Homo sapiens: one gene and its partners. The protein of the gene in region 2 interacts with the protein of the main gene of each other region in a pairwise test. Each region holds a gene or a part of one and is shown on either strand. Other genes may lie near its edges.

Evidence for each region. Proteins that work in one complex are often made in the same cells at the same time.
Region 1: the proteins of MYO5B (region 2) and KIAA1549 interact in a two-hybrid assay, tested with the Homo sapiens proteins (one study listed by BioGRID and IntAct).
Region 3: the proteins of MYO5B (region 2) and TRIM3 interact in binary tests that used the Homo sapiens proteins (3 or more experiments, as listed by UniProt).

Annotation. Positions count from the first base shown.
Region 1 is NC_000007.14:138,978,366-138,985,518, reverse strand, and holds the start of KIAA1549 (UPF0606 protein KIAA1549), read left to right. Parts: upstream 1-4,129; 5' UTR 4,130-4,249; coding exon 4,250-4,436; intron 4,437-7,153. UniProt on the Homo sapiens protein: May play a role in photoreceptor function.
Region 2 is NC_000018.10:49,835,129-49,842,166, forward strand, and holds part of MYO5B (unconventional myosin-Vb), read right to left. Parts: intron 6,327-7,038; coding exon 6,237-6,326; intron 5,298-6,236; exon of another isoform or gene 5,235-5,297; intron 4,237-5,234; exon of another isoform or gene 4,167-4,236; coding exon 4,016-4,166; intron 2,675-4,015; coding exon 2,389-2,674; intron 1,758-2,388; coding exon 1,583-1,757; intron 297-1,582; coding exon 216-296; intron 1-215. UniProt on the Homo sapiens protein: May be involved in vesicular trafficking via its association with the CART complex. The CART complex is necessary for efficient transferrin receptor recycling but not for EGFR degradation.
Region 3 is NC_000011.10:6,456,918-6,463,955, reverse strand, and holds part of TRIM3 (tripartite motif-containing protein 3), read left to right. Parts: intron 1-5,659; coding exon 5,660-5,891; intron 5,892-6,108; coding exon 6,109-6,260; intron 6,261-6,479; coding exon 6,480-6,660; intron 6,661-6,926; coding exon 6,927-7,038.

The DNA.
Region 1 (7,153 bases), on a different chromosome or scaffold from region 2:
CAAACTCCTGGGCTCAAGCAATCCACCTGCCTCAGCCTCCCAAAGTGCTAGAATTACAGACGTGAGCCACTGTGCCCGGCCTAATTAATCTTACTGATCATTTAGCACATGACTCTACGGGGCGCTTACTTAGTAGGGACTCAGTAAATATTTTTTGAATGTTTATTCTGGCTACTTCTCCACTTTGCACAGTTGTTCCCTCTGCCTGACACCCTCTTCCCCAGCTATCCCCATGGCCCAATGTCACCTTAGTAGGGTGATCATCCCTGACTATTCTATTTAACACAGTAACACTGACCCTTCCCTCACTCCTTTTCCCTCTTTGTTATTCTGCAAATTGTTGTCATCAGCCGAAGGCTCACTTACTGATTGCCTGTCTCCTCTCACTAGAACATAAGTTCCACGAGGAAGGGCCTTTGTTTTGTTCACCGTTATACCTCCAGTGCCCACTGCACTGCCTGGCATATGGTACATGCTCAAAAAATATTCATTGAATTTAATGAATGACCTTTGTGAACATTCATCTTATTTTGTATAATTCTCTTAAGAACCGAACCCACAGCTAAGCAAGGTAGGCATGTGAAGCCCATCATCAGATAAGAACATTTGAGGTTTGAGAGTAGGGTGAAGCATTTTGTTCAAGTTCATAAACTTTTCTGTGACAGAGCAGAACGCAGAACTCAGCTGTCCTGATTCCTATTCTAGGACTCTCACACTACCCTCTACCGACTTCCAGCCATCCTCTAACTTCAGTCCCTCTGTCCCATCCTTATCCAGACCCTAAGAATTGAGGGGCCCAGGTCAAGAGTGCAAATAGGGGCTCACGCAGCCCATTTCACATTTGGCCATTTTGGCCATTTCACATCGATGACCAGATTTTCATCAGCAAGTTACATGCCAAGCAAGCAAACTATTAAATATGTCTGTTCTACCTTAACAAACGTATGTCTTCAGAATGGTTAGGCTGGTTCACAGGCAGGATTCGCAGACTTCCTGCAGTTGTGAGCAGAACATCGCAGCCAGGTTGCCATGTGAATATGGGCCATGCCCGATCTTCTCTTCCCATCCCTGGTCCTCTGCTTCATTCCTATAGGTTTCATGTGCGCATCTTTAGAGATGCCTCCTGCGTAAGTTTTGCCACTCCCTAGCAAACAACTACCCCGTGGGACCAGACACACCCTTGGTGCAGCCTTGGGAGAATGGACTTGAGGAAGAGGCCACATAGGCCTGAAGATGAGCCTGGGGTGAAATGGGCAGGATTCTGGGGTCCTGGGCACCTGAGCATGGGAAGATGGGCTGCTGGTGAGGGTGCTTCCTGGGCTTCACAGACTCTGTCCTGAGGAGAGAGGTGCAGTTTGAGAAGGCCAGAGTGGGGCCCGCTTCGTCTAGGTCTAAGGATAGTACTGAGCCTACCTCTCCCTGTCTCCAAACCAGATTGTAAGCCTATCGAGGACCCAGGTTAATTTTCCCCCTCCCCTGGAGGGTGTGTGGTTTAACTGGAGACGACAATTCCAGTTGGAGTTGAGCCTTATGGAAATAAACTAACCTCTCTGGCTTGTTTCTTTATCTATGAGAATTGGATGAGATGATCTCTAAAATCGATTTTAAAATCTTACACACACACACACATTTGCACACACTCCCCTACCTCCAAGGACCACTCATCCCCTCTGAGTCTGCAGAGTAACACCACCTACCAGCTGGACTGTCAGAGCCTGGTAGACATTTTCCCAGACATGGAGGCAGAATGCCTTAAATCCTAACAGAGGTAAGATTTTGTTTTATGCCTTCAGAGCTGGGAGACTAAGGGACCCTAGGGACCTCACTTTCCACGGACACTTTGGTGTCCATGAGTCATTTCTAGTATCTCAGGGTTCCAATTTTTATTTTTACTTCCAGCTGATCAATCTCTTAATGGCAGGGCAAACACTATTGTCTTTGAGTTTGCAGAGAATGGAGAAGGAGACTCCTTTCTTTTTTCTTTTCCTTTTTTTTTTTTTTTTTTTTTTGAGATGGAGTCTTGCTGTGGCACCCAGGCTGGAGTGCAGTGGCGTGATCTTGGTTTACTGTAACCTCCGCCTCCTGGGTTCAAGTGATCCTCCTGCCTCAGCCTCCTGAGTAGCTGGGATTACAAGCACGTGCCACCATGCCTGGGTAAATTTTTCTGTGTTTTTATTAGAGACGGGGTTTGCCATGTTGGCCAGGCTGGTCTTGAACTCCTGACCTCAGGTGATCTGCCTGCCTTGGCCTCCCAAAGTGCTGGGATTATAGGCGTGAGCCACCGCGCATGGCCGAGGGAGGCTTTTTTCTCTGACACCAACGGGTCTAGTGTAGATGGCAGCTTGCAGGAGGCTGAGGCCAAATCTGAAGATGGAACCTCTTCACGGGCGGAATGCATGCTCTGGCTCAAACCAACGATTGTCTACTGAGGGCTTACTGGGGCTATGAGAAATCCTAAGCAGGATAGCACCATATTTGAATTTCATATTAATTTATTGGAGGTGGGGTGGGGGCTGTGTGTGCAAAGCATAAATTCATAAAAGATAAAACAACACAACAGGACAAGACCATTCAAGAGTTGCACGAAGGCAGTGGTTTGTGGTCAAATGTGCTGTTATAGAGAGTTCAGAGAATAAAGATAAGTGTGTGAATAAGAGGTCCCAGATCTATGGCCATGGTGTCCTGGGACCAGACATATCTGGGCAGTTTCTCTTAGGTACTTACCTGGGTGTGCACGCAGAACCCTCTTTGGGAGACAGGAGCAGTTACTGTAATAAACATAGGGGCTGTATGATGGGGGGTTACAATAACGTGTAAAAACACCAGGAACATCAACAAAAGCTTTTTTTAACCTTTATTCTCATTTTCCTTGAAACTACCAGGTTTCAAGTACCCACCTGTAAGGACCAGGTGTGTACCTACAGAAGAGTGCCCCTGTCCTATTCTTAGGAAGAACTATTCGCCAAGGGCAAGGAGTCCAGAAGAGTTGGAGCTGCAAGGCTGGGCAGCCCCTTCAAGGGCTGGGCCTGGCAGGGGAACCCGACTGAATAGCCGCGAGGATCCCTCTGCCAGTGTAATGATTCACCTTTTCCGCTGTCTGCCATAGTTTTTCTGCACGAGATAGTGTCCCCCACACACACCGTTAATATCTGCTTGATGCAACAATGCCAGTGGGATGCAACGATTCAAAACTTCCAATTCCTCCTCCCTAGACCCTGAAGCCACGGGGCGTCTTCAGAGTGACGTGCCTGGCACACAGTAGGTACTTGACAGATGTCAACTCCCTTCTTCCCGTTCCTCATTCCCCCCGCGGACTCCAACCCTCAAACGCTCTCTGGGCATTCTCTCCACCTCTCAGGAGCGCCACTTTCCCTAAAACGGCCTGGCCTTGCGGGTCTCCCCAGCTCCACGCCCATTCGCTTCAGCAGCCGCCTGCTCAAGGCCTGCTAAGTGCAGGGTCCCGCGGGCCTCCCAGGCCCTGAGCGCAGGGTCGCTTCCCGAAGACCCGCAGAGGTGGCCGCACCTTCTTAAGGCAGGAAGGCGGGGGAGAGCTGCGTGCGCTCTGCTCGCCCCTGCCTTGCACGCTGAGCTCTAGCGCAGGAGCCCGACTTTGTCTGGCTTTGTCCCCTCCGCGGCCCCGAGGCTGTCCTGAGAGCGCGGCGCCCCACACACCTGCTGCCCGCAAGGAGTCGGCGGGAGAGGAGGAGCGAGGGAGGCGAGAGGACCCCTCCCCCGGCTTGCCGGCCTACCCTGATCCGGGCGCCCCGGGGAACGCGCGGCGGGACCCGGGGTTGGGTGCGGGTCGGGGCGGCACCGCCCGGCCCAGGCCCCCCGAGCCCCTCGCGCTCCCTCCGGAAGGCGGGTCCTGGGGGAGGGCTGGGCCGCGCCGCCTCGCCGCCCTTGCCGCCTCTGCCGCGCCGAGCCCCGCGCACGCTGCCCCGGCCGCCCCGCAGGCAGGCAGGCAGGCAGGCAGGCAGGCGTCCGGCCGGCCGGGAGGGGGTGCTCGCCGTCCCGCGCCCGGGCCCGCGCGTTGCCGGGCAGCGGCTCCGAGGCTCCGAAGGGGGCGGAGCGGCAAGGCGGGCGTGCGGCTGGCGCCCCTGTCCTCGGTTCCGGCCCGGCCCGCCCCCGCCTCTCCGGCCTCCCTCCGCGCCGGTGCGCGGCGCCCCGTCCCAGCCGCAGCCGCAGCGGCCGCCCCTCCCGGACCCGAGAGCCGCTGAGCCGCGAGGCCGGGCCGGGGCGCCGGCCGGGAATGCCGGGGGCGCGGCGCCGACGCCGAGGCGCGGCCATGGAGGGGAAGCCCCGCGCCGGGGTCGCGCTGGCCCCGGGGCCGAGCGGCCGACGGCCTTCCGCCCGCTGCGCCCGCCGCCGCCGCCCGGGGCTGCTGCTTCCTGGCCTCTGGCTGCTGCTGCTGGCCCGGCCGGCCTCGTGCGCCCCAGGTAAGCTCCGCCGAGACCCTCGGAACGCGGCCGCGACCCCGCCTGCCTTTATCGCTGCTGTTTTCAAAACCCCGGCTTTCCCCGCCCATCCTCTTTTATTCTCCAGCTCCCTCGCCGTCCTTTCTGGAAGATGCTTTGCCATTCTTCTGGGGCCCAACAAATAAAGGCACGGGGGAAATAAATAATTAAAACGAACAAGCGAGCGGCTTCTGGCCGGTCTTGCTAAGGGGTCTGCAAAGCTGTTCTCTTGTCCATGGAACCCGAAGCGGGTCTGGTGGCTTCATCTCAGAATGTGCCTGGTTTTTCCTGCAGAATGCAGGCACCGGCGTGCTTTTTTGTCAAGGCTGTATGATGTGGCATATCGAATGTTTTGAGATACTTTATTGTCGGGGCGAAGAGGTGGATTCGAGGTGTGCTTTAAAAGAGTATTGCATTACCGGGACAAGCCCAGCGTCCCCCAGATGCGGGCAGGCCGGCCGTGTCCCCCCGTACAGCAGGACACAAAGAACATTCAAAGAAAACCTCTTGGAAAGCGCCCTGGCCACGGATCTTTCCAGGGAAATAGCTATTGGTATTACTTCTGCAAGGCATTATTAGTACAATGGAGTGTGAAAATATTTTGATTCTTAAGTGTCTGGGCATGAAAGGAGTAAGGGCTGTTTTTATAACAGATGCAATTTAGTGACTGTTCATCAGTATGGAATGAAGAGGCATGATTTATGAAGAAGCATAAGGGTTTTGTTGTGGAAGAAATGATTTAATTCCTATTGCTTCTCCAAAATGTTTATTTGTCCACCCTGAGCCTGTACACAGGATGGTCTGGAAACCGTCTCTGAGCTGACACTGCAGGCCAGCGATTGCCCCTGCACAGGCACTTGACCACTTTGAGGCGGAAAAGGAAAGGTGGAAGGAGCAGCTAGGGGTGGAGAGCTGCTGCACACAGAACAAAAACCAGAAAGCCGTGAACGCTGCTCCGAATCCTCCTTTCTCGTGGGAGCAGGGCCAAAGGGCTACTCAGTGGCTGGGAGGAATTGGAACACATTTGAAGGTGTCCCTTGGACCTGTGAGAATTATAACCAGTGCCCTAGAGGGGATGGTACAATAGAAGCACAGGGAGGACTTCAGGGATCATGGAACAGGTCCACTCTGCTTACCAAAGAGGAAACTAAGGCAGAGAAGTGCCTTGCTCAAGGTCACAGTCATCACTTTCCCTGCCTCCCACCCCCGCTCTTGGCCCATAGACATATCCACACCTGAAGCCTCTGCAGAGATTTCCCATAGCTGGGTGGAACCAGGGTTGGGGTGACAGAATGAGTCTCTTTTAGGCAGTATACAGCTAGTGCAAACACCTTACTCTAACCTAGGACCTCCCGTCTCAGTCCTGCTCCTGCGAGTTCCAGCCCTGTGTGTCCAGAGGAGAAGAGATCATTGTCAAGGGTCTCTTGGCTTTAGTCAACAAAGAGAGCCCATCTGATACTCGTGGATTCATCTGTCATAAGACACAGCAGATAAATGGTTTCCATCTCCTGAGTGCTTTTTGTGTGCCAGATGTTGAATTTTATATACACGATCCAATCACGTTGTGAGTTAGGCATAGTTATCCCCATTTTACAGATGAGGAAACTAAGGCTTTGAGTTTAGGTTGGTTTGGCTTCAGACTCTATGACATGCTTCCTTTCTGTGCCTGATGGCTTCCCCATATGAATGTGGCCATCTGGGTGTACTGCAGAGGTTGTGGAGAATATAAGTGCTTCTGGTAACTTTAAAATAAATAGTGAAGCTGTTTGCACTGCCCATCCCTAACCTTCTCTTCTTTGGAAGTCCTTTCCTGCTTCCCCTCTACCCCCAATACAAATATTCAACCTGGAGACATGAAATTAATAATATTTCCATTCTAGACCTGACATCATGGAAAGAGACTTCATCCTTTCACTGGTTTGTATATTGGCTTCAGCCGCTGCCAGGCTCATAGACTAGGAACTAAGAAGTGGAGGGCACAGCCCCTGTGCTCCAGGATCCAGCTGGAAACACAGAGCAGTGAAGGAAGTACAAACCCTTGCACAGACCATTCCCGGACAGGAAAGGCAGGATTCCTTATGGATGACCTGCTGGAGGTGACCCCATCTACTTGAAGACTGTGAGGAACGATCTTGGTGGAGGGTGGCTTCCTGATGTAGCTAGGGTGTGTGTAGGGTGCCTGGGCGGTGCTGTTGATCCTGGGAAGAGGGTGCGTTGCAGTTGCTTGGGCTGCCCTCCCAGTCCTGAGTGTGGTATTTTCACCAGGAGATTTGGAATGTAGGAGAGCTTTGCTGAACACTGCTGTGGTGGTTGGTTCTCTTTCTAAGGAATAAGCAGTGGTAGTCAGAAAATGGCATGGCTTAGACCTGTTTTGGACTTCCTATGTGAGGCAGCATTCCCTTCCGTGGCTGTCTGAAAGCTATCTCCTCCTTCAGCTGGCTTCTCTTGTTAACTTTTGTTCAATAGAGTCCACCTTCCAGGTGGTCCCCTTATTACAGTCTTTGGTTAAATCTCTATGTTAAATCGATTTCTTGTCTATTTGTATTTCATTCAGCATTTTGAGTGTGTTTTTTTAAAAAAAAAATTTACAAGTTTGGTCTTAACCATTGACTGTTGTGGAAACAACTTGTAATGCTTTGGACTTACTTTTGAATGCATTGCTCTTAAGTGATTAGCCATCCACAGTATAAAAACAAAGA
Region 2 (7,038 bases):
ATGATAAAAGTTGAGTTTTCTGTGTGTAAACAGTAAGTTACTCATGGGTGATACGGTTCATGTTTACCTAAGTAGAAAGTCTAGGAATGTAAGGTCTCCCAGCATATATGTAACCAGTATTTTAGTAATAAAGAGAAGCAAGATTAAAGCCCAAATTTTTAATTTCCTTTATAGTCGTAGACTGGACTTTATAAAATTACTATCTTAAAACTCACCTGGATTGTTCGTATAAAGGCCACTGTTACCCGTTCTTCAAATTCATTCAGGGGAGTATAAAGGTTTAAAATTTTGACAATCTGTTGGGGATAAAAACGGAATTTAGCACAGAGCTAAATGAACATGAGACAACTTTTGAACTTTAAAGAATATGTGACATTGGTACAAGAGTATGATCCTCTTTAGACAAGGCCCACAACACAGATGGAGCTGGACTGACATTTACACTTGGAGCCTGCATCCAGGAAACTAGAGCCCACAGCTTTGTCAGGTGGATCTGAGCCCTCTCACCGAACTCATGTCTCCTGTAAACCCACCTGCCCCTCCCCACTATGCTCATTGGTATACACAATGAGGAGTTTAGAATGCAGTTGCCTGAAATCCTCAGCCTCATATCTACTAGTAATTTAAAGGTTTCTTCTGAAGAGTACTGGAGATCTTACCTTAGATGAGAAAGGTCTTGTTTAATACCTAACTACCCCCTGTCCCCCAACATTGTTTACAAATGAGTATTTGAACAGGAGATACTCTTTTGTCTGCCTACCACTGGTTTGGTGGAAGTAGACTGCCCAAATGCAATGCCAGCTGCATCTAGAAGGAAACTTACTTTAAGTGAAATGTATTTAAAGAGAAGAAAAATGTTTGAAGACTTTCTGGAAATGTTTACAGAAGGAAGCAGTTTTTTAAAGAGTTAGATATTTAATATTTTAATAGTAAGCAGAGGAGGTAAGGAAAGGTGTTCACTTTGCTATATTAAGATGTGTTTTTCTGTACTGAGTTTGGATTTTGTTATTTATCTTTCAGGGACTGGCAATGTGTCGGCAACTGAATCATGGTTATACATTTTTTAGGGAAAAGGAAAGTAACACTTAAATGCCCCTAAGTTCTTAATGACTTCATTTAAAACAATATAAATGAGTGTGAGTGAAAATATGACCATATTGCAATTAGTTTTAAAGAAAAGGTTTTTCTTACAGTTATATTTGTAAAGAAAGCAAATACCTGATGCTGCCAATTTCTGAAAATTTGTGGATTTCTATGTAAGAAACATTCCAGAATTCATTATATTTAAAGAAGTTTTTACCTAAACTTAACGTTTTGTGAGTTTGCTACCTTATCTTTTTAAGTGAGTAAGAGGGATAGAGAGTTACTAGAAAACAGTATCTGTGGCATCTTGTTTCACAGACCAAATGGTTTTTGGTTCATCTAGGAATATCCCATCAGCTGCACTTCAAAATTGTCTCATTAGGGGTATATAAAGGGTGGGAGTGCAACACTAACAAATAACCACCAACGAGAACAGACTTGGAATGGACTCAGGGCTTCCTTGGAATACCATGTTGACAGAGGTGCAAAGTGACTGTACCTGCTGGGTGCTGAGGGAGGTACACAGGGAGCAGATAGCCTCTGCGTCCTCCTGGGTTTTCTTCTTTAATTGCAGGAGCTGGGCTGCTTGGATCAGAGGTTCCATGGTCTGAACTGCTCCACTCTGGTGAAGGTTTCTTCCCCGAAGCCACTCCTCAAGCTGACTTATATTGTACCTTAGCCATAGGTAGAAAGCAAGCTATGTTAAGCCGGTCCTCCTAATTCACTGAGAAGGGGACACCTGTTGTGTTTTGCAGGCCCGCTGCAGCTAGTGCCATTATTTATCTCACACGGTTAAAAAGCATGGCAAGTGCCTTGCACTCAGGAACTATTTGTTGAATAAAGAATGAATAAATGAATGAGTGGGTACTTAAAATCAAGCAAAGATGAAATACCTGAAGTGTCTACATAAGTTAACAGGGAAAAACAGGCATTAAATATACTGAATTGTAAGTATTTATATTTAACATTCACAAATGTATTTATACTTCTATGTGAGCCTTCATGCCTCTTAACTCATTGAGTTTTCTCTCTGACCTATCTGCTTTGTATTCAGTCTTTAACTTAGAGTATGTCAACATCTTTAAGCTTTGAACTAATTTGTTTACCAAGTCAACCATCTCAGTGTTCGACGGATTTCACCAACAGGTAAAAAGGTGATGGATTTGAGTCACAGACTGATGGAGACAAGGACTGTCAATTAGATTTGGATTTCATTTTTAGAAACAGCAGTCTTGTGTTCTGATTCTAGCTGCAGTCAGTGAGGGCCCACTCTATCTGTGTTGTTGGGGGGTGCTCCTCCCTTACCTGAGTTGCATGCCTGTGCTCCAAGAGCAGACGTCCTTCCGCAAGAGCAGGTTGTTAAGAGTCACTGCGTTGATCATGTAGAAGAGCTGTTTGAATACCTGCAGGATGATCTCAGGGTCCAAGCCCTGGTCACACATGACTGTATGAAAGGCATTCATCTGGCGGATGATAGCTTCCAGGCAGTATGAGTTATCCCCATCTGCCATGCTGGAGGAGCGCTTCCGGTAGCCGGTGGGCTTCACACCAGATAGACCCTGAATGCTCTCATTTTCCAACATGGCAGAAACTGAAATAAAAGCACAGTTAGAGAAGCTTGCATTCCCCACTAACAATGCAAAGATTGGACCACTCAAATCATTTAGTGCTCCGGGCTTTAGCAATGATACCATCCAGAGGTGTGCAATGTTGACATGCTTAGGAACTTATAACATTTGGCAAAAAATTTCTAATGTGTTGATTTCTGTATGGAATAAAACAGCTGTGGACAGCATTTTCATTTAATTTACTGGCAATTAGACAAAGATGATGGGCATGTACCAGCTCGATTTGGTATCGCCTGTGCTGAAGTCCACAGTTTGAGAATTGAGCAACCTGGGTGTCATCCTCGTCCAGCCACTGACTATGTAAATAAGAGCTTCATTGGTCCGTCATACTTACTAAGCAGCCATTACCTATGCACCAGGGGCTTTATGTTCAGTATCTCTTTCAATCTTCCAACAACTCTATAAAGTACTACCCATTTTTATGAGGAAGTTGAGGTATAAAGCGGTTAAATAACTTGTCTGAGGTCACACTGATAGGGAGTGGCAGGGCCAGGATTTAAACCCAAGTCTGTCTGACTCCAGAACTGCTGCTATTAACCTTCACATTATTCTGAGTATCTCCAGCTTGATATGTCAGTTCTCCCTCTGTCTGGTGCCTTATAAAAAGATTTCCAGACAGGAAGGAGGGTTTGGAATGAACCTCATTTCAAGTAATGTATTTCTAGATTGGTCCTTCTTGGGATTCACTCATAACCTACTTGTGTTGTAAGAACCTGGGGAAAGCATTATGAATAGGTCCAGGTACACTTTCCTTCCCAGCCTTTGCAGAGCACAGTGAGTAATGCATCTACACATAATTTTTCTTCCGATTGAAAATGTAACTGCTCTCATTTCTCAATTCTGATTTCATGTTCAGTGCCCAAGTACACTGCTTGGTTCAAAGCAAGTGTCTAATAAATACTGATGCATCGTGCCGACTGCTGTGTCCTTTCGCATGAACACTCCTGCTTTTTTCCATGAATCAAGTTCATAATAGGTTAAGAGGGTTATGCTTTTTCACTGTATATGCATTTGTACCTTTTGAGTTTACATTTATTATGTATTAAAATTTGGGAAAAAATACAACATATTACAGAAAAAGAGATAAAGGGAAAGTCATCTATGCCTCTTGCACTGTGTCAAATACTTTCACAGCTTTTTAAGCATGATGTGCACACCTCAGTTCTGCCTTCACTGGAAGGTTCTGGCTTTCTGGAGGTCATGGCTAAGATATCTGGTTCCCGAAAGGCAGAGGGTGCTGACCACGCCTTCCCCTCATTTCAGACACCATGATGAGTGATGTAGCTCTCCTGCTGCCAGCTTACCTATCATCGGCTGTAACACGCCCTCGGCAATTTTAATGAGCTGCTGGTAGATCTGAATGGAAAGGTCACTCAGCACCTGACGGTATTCGGTGAGGTCAAAATTCTTAAGACAGTGTTCATTCTGCTTTGCAGTGTTCTGAGTCATGAAGCCCTGCAGAGGGAGAGGCGTGCACTACTGAGTTCTCTGGTCTGCTGGGCCCAGCACAACTTCCAGGGCTCTGGTAACTTTAGTCATCTATTTGGTGGGCAGGGGGCCTACTCAGGCCCTCCCTATGTAGATGATGTTTTACAAAAGCCTGTCAGTTCTTTGAGGCCTCATTGATGACCCTTGAACTTGAAGGATGTAGAAAAACTCAACATGAGAGAGAAAGCCTGAATCGCTCAGTCCAAATCCCTGAGGCGAAGTGATTTCCCTACGGTAGCAAAACCTAGGTTGGTACCAGGTCCAGAGAAAGGGATCCCTGCTTTTTCCCTTCATCCAGCGCTTTCCTCAATATATCAGGTCCCCCTAAAATGTTAGATGATGTGCAGCCTCTAAAGGAGTGTGGCCATGGGCCAGATTATACGCTTGTATGAGGAGAAATTTTATACAGATTCTATCACTGGTTATCAGAATTAATAGATGAACTAAAGTGATTTCATAGCTACCGCACTGTGTCCTCTTAGCTTTCTGTATTAATCAGATGAAATCACATGTAAGTTAAGGGAACTGCTGATATCAGAAGGGCTCATGTGACCAATGTCCTTTTCATTCAGGCCTAGGGAAACCAGTATCTGCCAAAAAGATTAGTGCTCCCAAAAGGGCAACCATCTTCAGCAAGGCCTGTTGTACTGTGTCAAATACAAAGCCATCTTAATATGAAAAAAAGCAGGCAGAAAAGGGGATAATTGTAATGATGAAGATAGAGTCAATCATTCTTCCTTGTTATTTGGACTACACGGATCTGGTCATGCTGTGGTTCAGCTCTTGACCCAGAGAATATGAGCACATGTAACCACAACCTAATGTAATGGAGTTCTAGGTCCTGCCCTAGCCTTATATAACCTCCCATTTAGAATGTGTATAACATTGGGTAAAGTGATGGACCTCAATGAAATAACATTACATGTAGTTCTATGCTTCAAGTAAATGCTTGGATATTATGATTTTGTAACAGAAGTCATGGGGTTTGAAATGGCTATTTCTTTAACCTTTGGCCCATCTCTTTTATAATAAAAGCAGGCCATCAAATGAAGTGCTGGTTCTTAGGAGAGAGATGGCGTCAAGCCAACTGCAAAGAAGGTAAGACTGAAAGGAAGGGCATATCCTTTTACTAACCCAGGGAGAAGAGTCTGTCAAAATTGGTTCTGGCACAAAAGATGGAATAAAGCTTTAAAAATGGTCGCACTATTTTGGTTTACACTATGTCTTGACCTTGGGAAGGGTGGATGGTGAGATATGTGAAAGGAAGGGGAAGAAAAGTTGGAAGACCTACAGGAACCTGTGAGCGGGCATATCTGGAACAAGCTGGGATTCTCACCAGAGAAACTAGAATGGAAACAAGCCACATATTACTAGGTCATTGGGCAGAGTGCAGAGCATGGGAGAAGTTCTTTCAGGGACCAAAGCTAGGAATGTGAGTTCCAGAAAAAGCTGGGCCTTACAGGTCCGGTGTGGATTGTGAAGTGATGGGGTTAGTAGTTGGGCCTCAGGTCAAGGAATCCAATTTGGATAAATGCATGGAGCTGGGCCTCCAGGTCAGTTTGCACACACGTAGTTCTGATTATGGTGTGCCTCTGTTCTTGTGGCCATCTTTGTCTATCTTGAAATGGACAGATTAATCAGTTGGCTTAGGAGACAGGGTGACCCACTAGGCAACTGAGCTCCCTGCCAGTATCCACTGCAGTGGGGCTTCTAGAGCTGATACAGAAATGTCAGGTTACAAGAGTTTCATGGAGACTCCCAGGGCCTCTATTGATCATGGGTTATGCAGACTCTACTTACATAACCCAGGAGTGCTTTTTGGGGCCCCTTGGGCTCATCAAGGCCTCCTAGAGGCAGGTCTCCTGTGGCTGGCCTTATTGCTGCTTCCAGCCACGAGGCATGATAAGGTGTGCCCACGGTCTGAGGTCCCCAAGGGTGCTCCAAAGACCCCACTGACCTCTGAGGGTATACAAAGCACTTCTCAACCACATTTGGATGAAGCAGGAATGCCTCCTGGGTGCCTGGCTCCCCACTCACCTCATCCCCGCTGTACTGCTTCAGACAGTGAAGAAGGCGGCAGGTGTTGGATAACCAGAATGACGTCATCTCAAAGTCATCATTGTGCTTCTGTGAAAAGAAAAGGACATCCTCAGCTCTAAGTGGCTCCCATCTGGTGAAATGCTTCCTCGGTACCTCTTTCCCCACATTTCCTACCCTTACCTAGTGTTCCTGAGCAGCCCTGAGGCTGGGCAGGGCACTTGCCAGTCACGGGGTTGAGACCCATTGCTGAGAGGCTGTGTGAGTGTTCCTCTACCACCAGGGATGGTGCACAGAACCCCCACCTTGGTCTCCTGATCAGTGGTGCACATACAGGGACACACATAAAGGACAGGCTGCCTTCCATGGCTGAAGAATGAATGCAAAGCTGAGTGACAGATGAGGCTCTGCCCCAACAGCCCCGGGCTCTCGTCTAACCGCCTGGGCTAGCTGGCTCTGTTTCTGAACTGCCAGTTATCCAACACAAGGGATGCTGAAGAGCATAACAGCAAAATAGTTTGGTGTCCCATTTATCTAGATGTCAGATGCATCATGGCTTTAACTCTCTAGAAAATGGCTACAAACCCTAACTAGGTGAAAAAGCCTGCTCAGCAACCCAAACAGCTATGAGACAGCTGCTGCATTAAAGCTGATGACTTCACGCAGCTCATTCTGTCAAGTAAGCGTTATCATTATTTAAATGACAGAGTGGTATGAGGTACGACCAAAAGAAAAAAAAAAAAAAAGAAATGAGGTTGAATAGAAAGTGACTGCTGGGGCTGGGACATGCTATTTTAGCTCA
Region 3 (7,038 bases), on a different chromosome or scaffold from region 2:
CCCTGCCAGCCCTGCTCTTTGAGATTCCAGCTCCACTGCCCACTCTCCTTTATCAACTGGAAATGGCCTCAGTTTTCCTGTCCATTCAAGTTCTTCTGTCAGCCTGGGGACAACCACCCTCTTGTGCCTGTTGGTTCTTAACTGTTTCTTCAGGGTTGTCCCCCATTCCACCTCAGTAACACTCCCTCCCAACCATGCCCTGAATCTTATAATCCAGAATCTTATCTGTAGTCATAAACGCCAACGTTCCACTCCTGGCTCCCGTTACCCCACTCCCATTACACCACTTTCGATACAATATAGATATCTAGCCCCTTTGACTGCTCCCTCTTTTCCCAGTCACCAGCTGCGTCCTGGCCTCCCTGTCTTTCCTGCCCATCCTGGACCCTGTGGCTGACCGACTGGCTCCCCTGCAGTTCCTTCACATCTTTATCCTTTGCAAAACCCATGCAATAGAAGCTCAATGTTGGATCAGAGCTGAAATTGGATGTCTCTGCACTTTCTCCTGTGCCCAGATCACTGAGCACTCCTGGAGAAAATCTGGCTGAGAAATTGTAATAACAGTAGCTACCATGTATTGATTGCTTACTGTTTGCCAGGGACTGGCTAAGTGATTTATACATACTGATTTCCTTAATCCCTGCAACAGATACTTTATTAACTTCATTTTATTTTTTTATTTTAATTTTTTAATGTAACTTTTCATTTTAATTTTTTTTGGTTTGTTTTTTGTTTTTGTTTTTGTTTTTTTGAGACAGAGTCTCTCTCTGTCACCCAGGCTGGAGTGCAGTGGCGCCATCTTGGCTCACTGCAATCTCTGCCTCCTGGGTTCAAGTGATTCTCCTGCCTCAGCCTCCCAAGTAGCTGGGACTACAGGCGCACGCCACCACATCCGGTTAATTTTTGCATTTTTAGTAGAGATGGGGTTTCACCATGTTGGCCAGGCTGGTCTCGAACTCCTGACCTTGTGATCTGCCCGCCTCAGCCTCCCAAAGTTCTGGGATTCCAGGCGTGAGTCACCGTGCCCAGCTTGTTTCAATTTTTTAAATTTTATTTTTTTTTTAGAGATGAGTGTCTTGCTATATTGCCCAAACTGGACTTGAACTCCTGGGCTCAAGTGATCCTCCTGCCTCAGCCTCCTGAGTAGCTGGGATTACAGGTGCAGGCTACCACACCCAGGTATCCCCATATTAGAGAGGAGGAAACTAAGGTTCAAAGTCAGTAAATAATTAAGAAATATCTCTGGCCAGGTGCAGTTGCTCATGCCTGTAATCCCAGCACTTTGGGAGGCCAAGGTGGGAGGATCACTTGAGCCTAGGAGTTCCAGAGTAGCTTGGGAAACAACATAGTGAGATGCAGTCTCTAAAAAAGAATTTAAAAATTAGCTGGGTGTGGTGGCATGCACCTGTAGTTCTAGCTAATCGGGAGGCTGAGGTGGGAGGATCATTTGAGCCTGGGAGGTGGAGGCTGCAGTGAGCCATGATCACATCACTGCACTCTAGCCTGGGTGACAGAGAGAGGCTCTATCTTAAATTAAATAAACAAATAAAAAAAAAGAAATATTTCCAAGGCTACACAGTAAGTAAATAGCTGAGATCTGAATCCAGTTTTCACTGCAGAGCCTTCACTGTCAACTAGTATTCATTCATGTATCCCTTGGTCCCTGCTCTCAGAGGATGTTCTAGTGGGCAGTGACTGACAGTAAGCAATCAAGAAAACGAGAGCTGCAGCTTGTATTAATGTTTTACAGGATATAAACAGAGAGAAGTAGGGGTGTTTGGGGCAAGAACTATTCTATATAGTCATCAAGGAAGGCTTCCCTGAGGAGGTGACATTTGACCTGAGTTCTGAGGATAAGAAGGAGACAGATTGTTCCAGGCAATAGAAAAATCTGTGCAAAGGCCTTGAGGAAGAAGTAGACAGGACATGTTCAGATACCAGAAAAGAAACCAGTGTGGCCAAGTGAGGAGTAAAGTGGGATGAGGTGAAATTGGAGAGAATAAGGGCAGTTTAAGGGGGAGCTTGTAGGTTTTCAGAAAGTGTTTGGATTTTATTTTAAGTGCAATGGGAAACCATTGGAGTTTTTAAAAATATATATATACAGGGAAATAATGTAATGTAAAAAGTTCACCCTAGCTGTTATGGAGAGAATGGATTATAAAGGAGCAAGAGTGGAAACAGAGACCAGTTAGGAAGCTATCGTGAGCCAGGTACACTTGACAAATAGGAAGGGGATATTGCTGAATTAGAAGGTGTTTTGCATGGGGAAACACTAGATTCAGTGAGCTTGGAAGAAAGCTGCTGAAGAATAGAGTAGAATGGTTGAAATGCAGTGATAGTTGATGAGAAGTGGGTGTTAGTGGGAGCATGGGAAATGGGGGAAAAGATCACTGGGGGTGAGAAGGTCAAGGAATTAAGAAATCACAATGGGGGATGGATGTTAGTGCCACTGAGAATGATGGCAGAGTGGTGCGGGGGGTAATGGAAGAAGAGAGTGAGCCAAGAGAAAGATGTCCACAATTGGAAGTGGGGGCAACCATTAGGTTAGCAGAGACAACAATAAGGAGGAGTGATAGAGATAGAAGGCATGAGCTTCAAAGGAGCTAGAGTTGAATAGTTCAGAAATGTTCCAGTTGGGAAGAGGGAGGGCTCAAGCCCACCTTCTGGCCCTAAGGAGTGTGGAGTATGAGACAGAAACCACTCTACTTGAGAGGACTGCAAGGAAAAGTAAGTCACAATTAAATAAGTTACACTGGGCATGGTGGCTCATGCCTGTAATCCCAGCACTTTGGGAGGCCGAGACGGGCAGATCACCTGAGGTCAGGAGTTTGAGACCAGCCTGGCCAACATGACAAAACCCCATCTCTACTAAAAATACAAAAATTAGCCAGGCGTGATGGTGTGAGCCTATAATCCCAGCTGCTCGGGAGGCTGAGGCAAGAGAATCGCTTGAACCCGGGAGGTGGAGGTTGCAGTGAGCCAAGATTGTGCTACTGCACTCACACCTGGGTGACAGAGCAGGACTCCGTCTCAAAAAAAAAAAAAAAAAAAAAAAAAGCCACCAAAAAAACAAAAACAAAGAAAACACAATTAAATAAGTTAATACTTGTGAAGCACTTAGAATCATGCCTGGCACATAGTGTTTGTCAGATTTTAATTAAGATCCTAAGTTATAGGAAACATTAAGAGTTGAGATTGAGGATATGGGAGAGTTTGCATAATGCAGATCTTCACTCCACAAATTTGAGGTCCCCAAATACAGCTGCCTTCAGTTCTGATGTCTGTTTCTAGTAAGTGTCCTCTGCTCTCCCATCACTGACTAATCTGAGCCATCATCAGGCCCCTGAATCCTCCATCCTTCACTCTCCTATGTCCCTAGTGCCTCTCTATATCCTCCTCTCCTTTCCTCCTTCCCTCCATTCAGAGACTGACGTCCAGTCCTCCTCTTCAGGCCAATCCGAGGCACTCCCCAATCCTCAAGATCTTCTCCTCTCAGTTTTGTAGTCTCTTCCCCCTCTCCTTCTCTCCTGACTCCTCCATTCATAAACATGCTCAAAACTCCCATGCCAAACAGGTAAAAACTCTTTCTAGCACCATCCAACCCCTCAACCAGCTCCTCATTGGAACTTTCAAGCTCCCCTTCACTCAACTTCCAGCAGTCAAGCTTTCCTTCTCCTGCCACTCCCTCCCTGTTTTCCCTACAGACAAAGTACCCTCACATTTGCCAAATTCAGTGGACATTTTCCTGTCCTTACCTTACCCAACTCGTCAGCTGCTTTTAACGCTGATGACTACTCATTCCCTCCTGGAAATGTACCACTCAGTTTTCTGCCCTAACACAGCTGCTCTTCCTGCCTCTCGGCCTGGTCTTCTTTGTTGTCCTCATTCAGTTTTTGCTAAGTGCTCTGTCCCTCTCTCTTATCACTGTCTATGCTTTCTTGTCTGATCTCATCCTCTCCCAGTGCTACCGAAGCCATCTAAATGTTGATGGCATGCCCATCTCTTGTCTCTAACCTTCATTCTCCTGTCTACTGGTGACCTCAACCTGGGTGTTTATTGTTACAGTAAATTCAACCAGGACAAGGCTGAACTTTCCTATAGCTACTCCTCTTTCTATGTTTCTCATCTTAGTGAATGTCACCACTATCCACTCAGTTATCAAAGCTAGGAATTTGGAAGTCAGCGAAGACTCATCATCTCTCTTGCTCCCCATATCTAATCAGACAACACCTCCCACCTTCCCTCCTTCTTAAACACTTCTCAAATTTATTTCCACCTCATAGTCTACATTACTATTGCCTAAATCCAGGTCTTCTTCACTTCCTACCTAGATGATTGTAAGAGTATGCTGGCTAAGCACATACTTTGCATTTGAAGACAGGCTTCAGCACCTACTGCTGTTGTTACCTTGGGCCACTTGCCCTTTCTCCTGCTAACAGAAACGTAATCAGAAAGCATGGCACCTGGCACATATGCACTTAATAAATGGTAACTAGCTGGTGATGCCACTGCCCTCGCCCCCCAACCCCATCTGCTGTCTCATTCCCTTTAAATTCACTCCCCACACAGAGGGGGTGAAGAGGAGCTTGGTAAAATATAAACCTGGCTATACCACTCTCTTGCAGCTTCCTATTGCTGGCAGGATAACTTCTAAGCTCCTTGACTTCTGTCACCATTCCTTGCCTTGGACTTTGTCTCTAGCCAGCCACATCAAACTGCTTACAGTTGCTTATTCATACTATGCTGCTTCTTGCTGCCTTCTGTATCTGGACTACCCTTCCCCCTCTGCCTGCACCATTCTTTGGTCAGGCTAACAATTATTTATCCTTGAAGATTTAGTTTGCATCAACTCTCTGAAGACTTTCCTGGACACCCTCTCCACCTGCTTGAGCCAGATGCATTTCCTTATCACTTTCTATCATTCCTTATATTAATAATAAGTAATACAAGTAGCCTACCATATATAGTGCTATTATGAGTCAGGCATTTTACATTTAATCCTCTTCAAATATAAGTAAGTACTTTACATGTAATCCTCTAACACTCTGTGAAGTCTGTACTTCTCCATCTTACAAAGGAAGAGTCCTTGGCTTGTCAAAGTTATGTAACTTGTCAGGGGTCATACAGTATAACAGGTGACCAACGGGGTGTTGGGCCTGGGCAGCCTAGCTCCAGGACCCATTCCCTTAATCATCATGCTATTTACTTCTGTACTATTCCTGTGACTTTTTTCTCTGTAGATGGGAAGTATTTTAAGGGTAGGCACTGTGCTTTATCTTTTTGTCCCCAGGGCTTGGCATAAATTTGGCAAGAGTAGACAGTAGTGTTAATGAGTTAAAGAAGTTGGGCAGGGGGTGCCTAGTTGCACATTCCTATGAGAAGCATTTGTAAACACCTGTGAAAGGTGAGCCTGTGTGCACACTGTGAGGAATGTGGATAGTCTGCTCTTCTGAGAGGGGTCGGGGTGTGTTCCTACTCAGTTGTAAGGGGCAAGGCCATTATACCTGCTGGCAGATGAGATGTGTCAAGCAGAGAGGTTTTAAAATGAAGTGTAATGGCACACCTGTGAGGGAAGGGGTTGGCACCCATGGGAAGTATAAGGAAGGGTGCACTTATGCCACCCCACCCACTCTGTTCTTTGACTCTCCTTCCTGGACAGATGTCTCCAAAACTATATCCCTGCCCAGAGCCTGACGCTATCCTGTCCAGTATGCCGGCAGACGTCCATCCTCCCAGAGCAGGGCGTCTCGGCACTGCAGAACAACTTCTTCATCAGCAGCCTCATGGAGGCAATGCAGCAGGCACCTGATGGGGCCCACGACCCGGAGGACCCCCACCCCCTCAGTGTAGTGGCTGGCCGCCCTCTCTCCTGCCCCAACCATGAAGGCAAGGTGGGCCCAAGCGAGGCCCAGTGAGGCCGGGACTTGGGGTGGGAGGAGGAGGAGAGGCATTGGGGGGTGCCGAGTGGCTGGGTGACAGGGTACTGCTCTGGATTAGTGGTCCAGGTAGGGGGTGCACTTAGAAGGTGAGGGGCAGGGAGGGCAGGTGGGGAGGGGACAAAGAAGTGTGATGTCTAGCCATTACCCGACTGGAGTCCTTGTACCGCAGACGATGGAGTTTTACTGTGAGGCCTGTGAGACGGCCATGTGTGGTGAGTGCCGCGCCGGGGAGCATCGTGAGCATGGCACAGTGCTGCTGAGGGATGTGGTGGAGCAGCACAAGGCGGCCCTGCAGCGCCAGCTCGAGGCTGTGCGTGGCCGGTAGGCACTGGGCAGGGTCCTGGGCTGGTGGGGCCACAGGGATGGTGTCTTAGCTCGGGCGGGGAGGGGAATAAAGGGTCTGGGAAGGGCAGAGATGGAAGTCTCAGGGAGGTCTCAGGAAGGAGATCTCCATGAGGGCAGCAGTAGGTTCCCCAGGGAGAAGGGAAAGTTCGGCAAAGCCACCCTCAGCAACTCTGGAATGAGATATTCCCCCTCCAGATTGCCACAGCTGTCCGCAGCAATTGCCTTAGTCGGGGGCATCAGCCAGCAGCTGCAGGAGCGCAAGGCAGAGGCCCTGGCCCAGATCAGTGCAGCGTTCGAGGACCTGGAGCAAGCACTGCAGCAGCGCAAGCAGGCTCTGGTCAGCGACCTGGAGACCATTTGTGGGGCCAAACAGAAGGTGTGTCTTGTGTTCACCCTTTCCTACCATCGTCCATTGTGATGGTGTTATTGCCTCCATTGTTCCTCTGTCTTCCACACCAGCTCCCCATTCCCCAGCCTAGATATTCTGCCTCCTGACATGCCCTCGGTAGGTGCTGTGGGCATCTGTGTCCTCTGTCCACAGGCACCCTCTTGTATTTTATGCCACAGTGCTACAACTTCAGTAATCACAGAGACTCCCCCTGTGCCAGTCTGCTCACCCACTCCTCCCCTACCCCTCATCAGGTGTTGCAAAGCCAGCTGGACACACTGCGCCAGGGTCAGGAACACATCGGCAGTAGCTGCAGCTTTGCAGAGCAGGCACTGCGCCTGGGCTCGGCCCCGGAGGTGTTGCTGG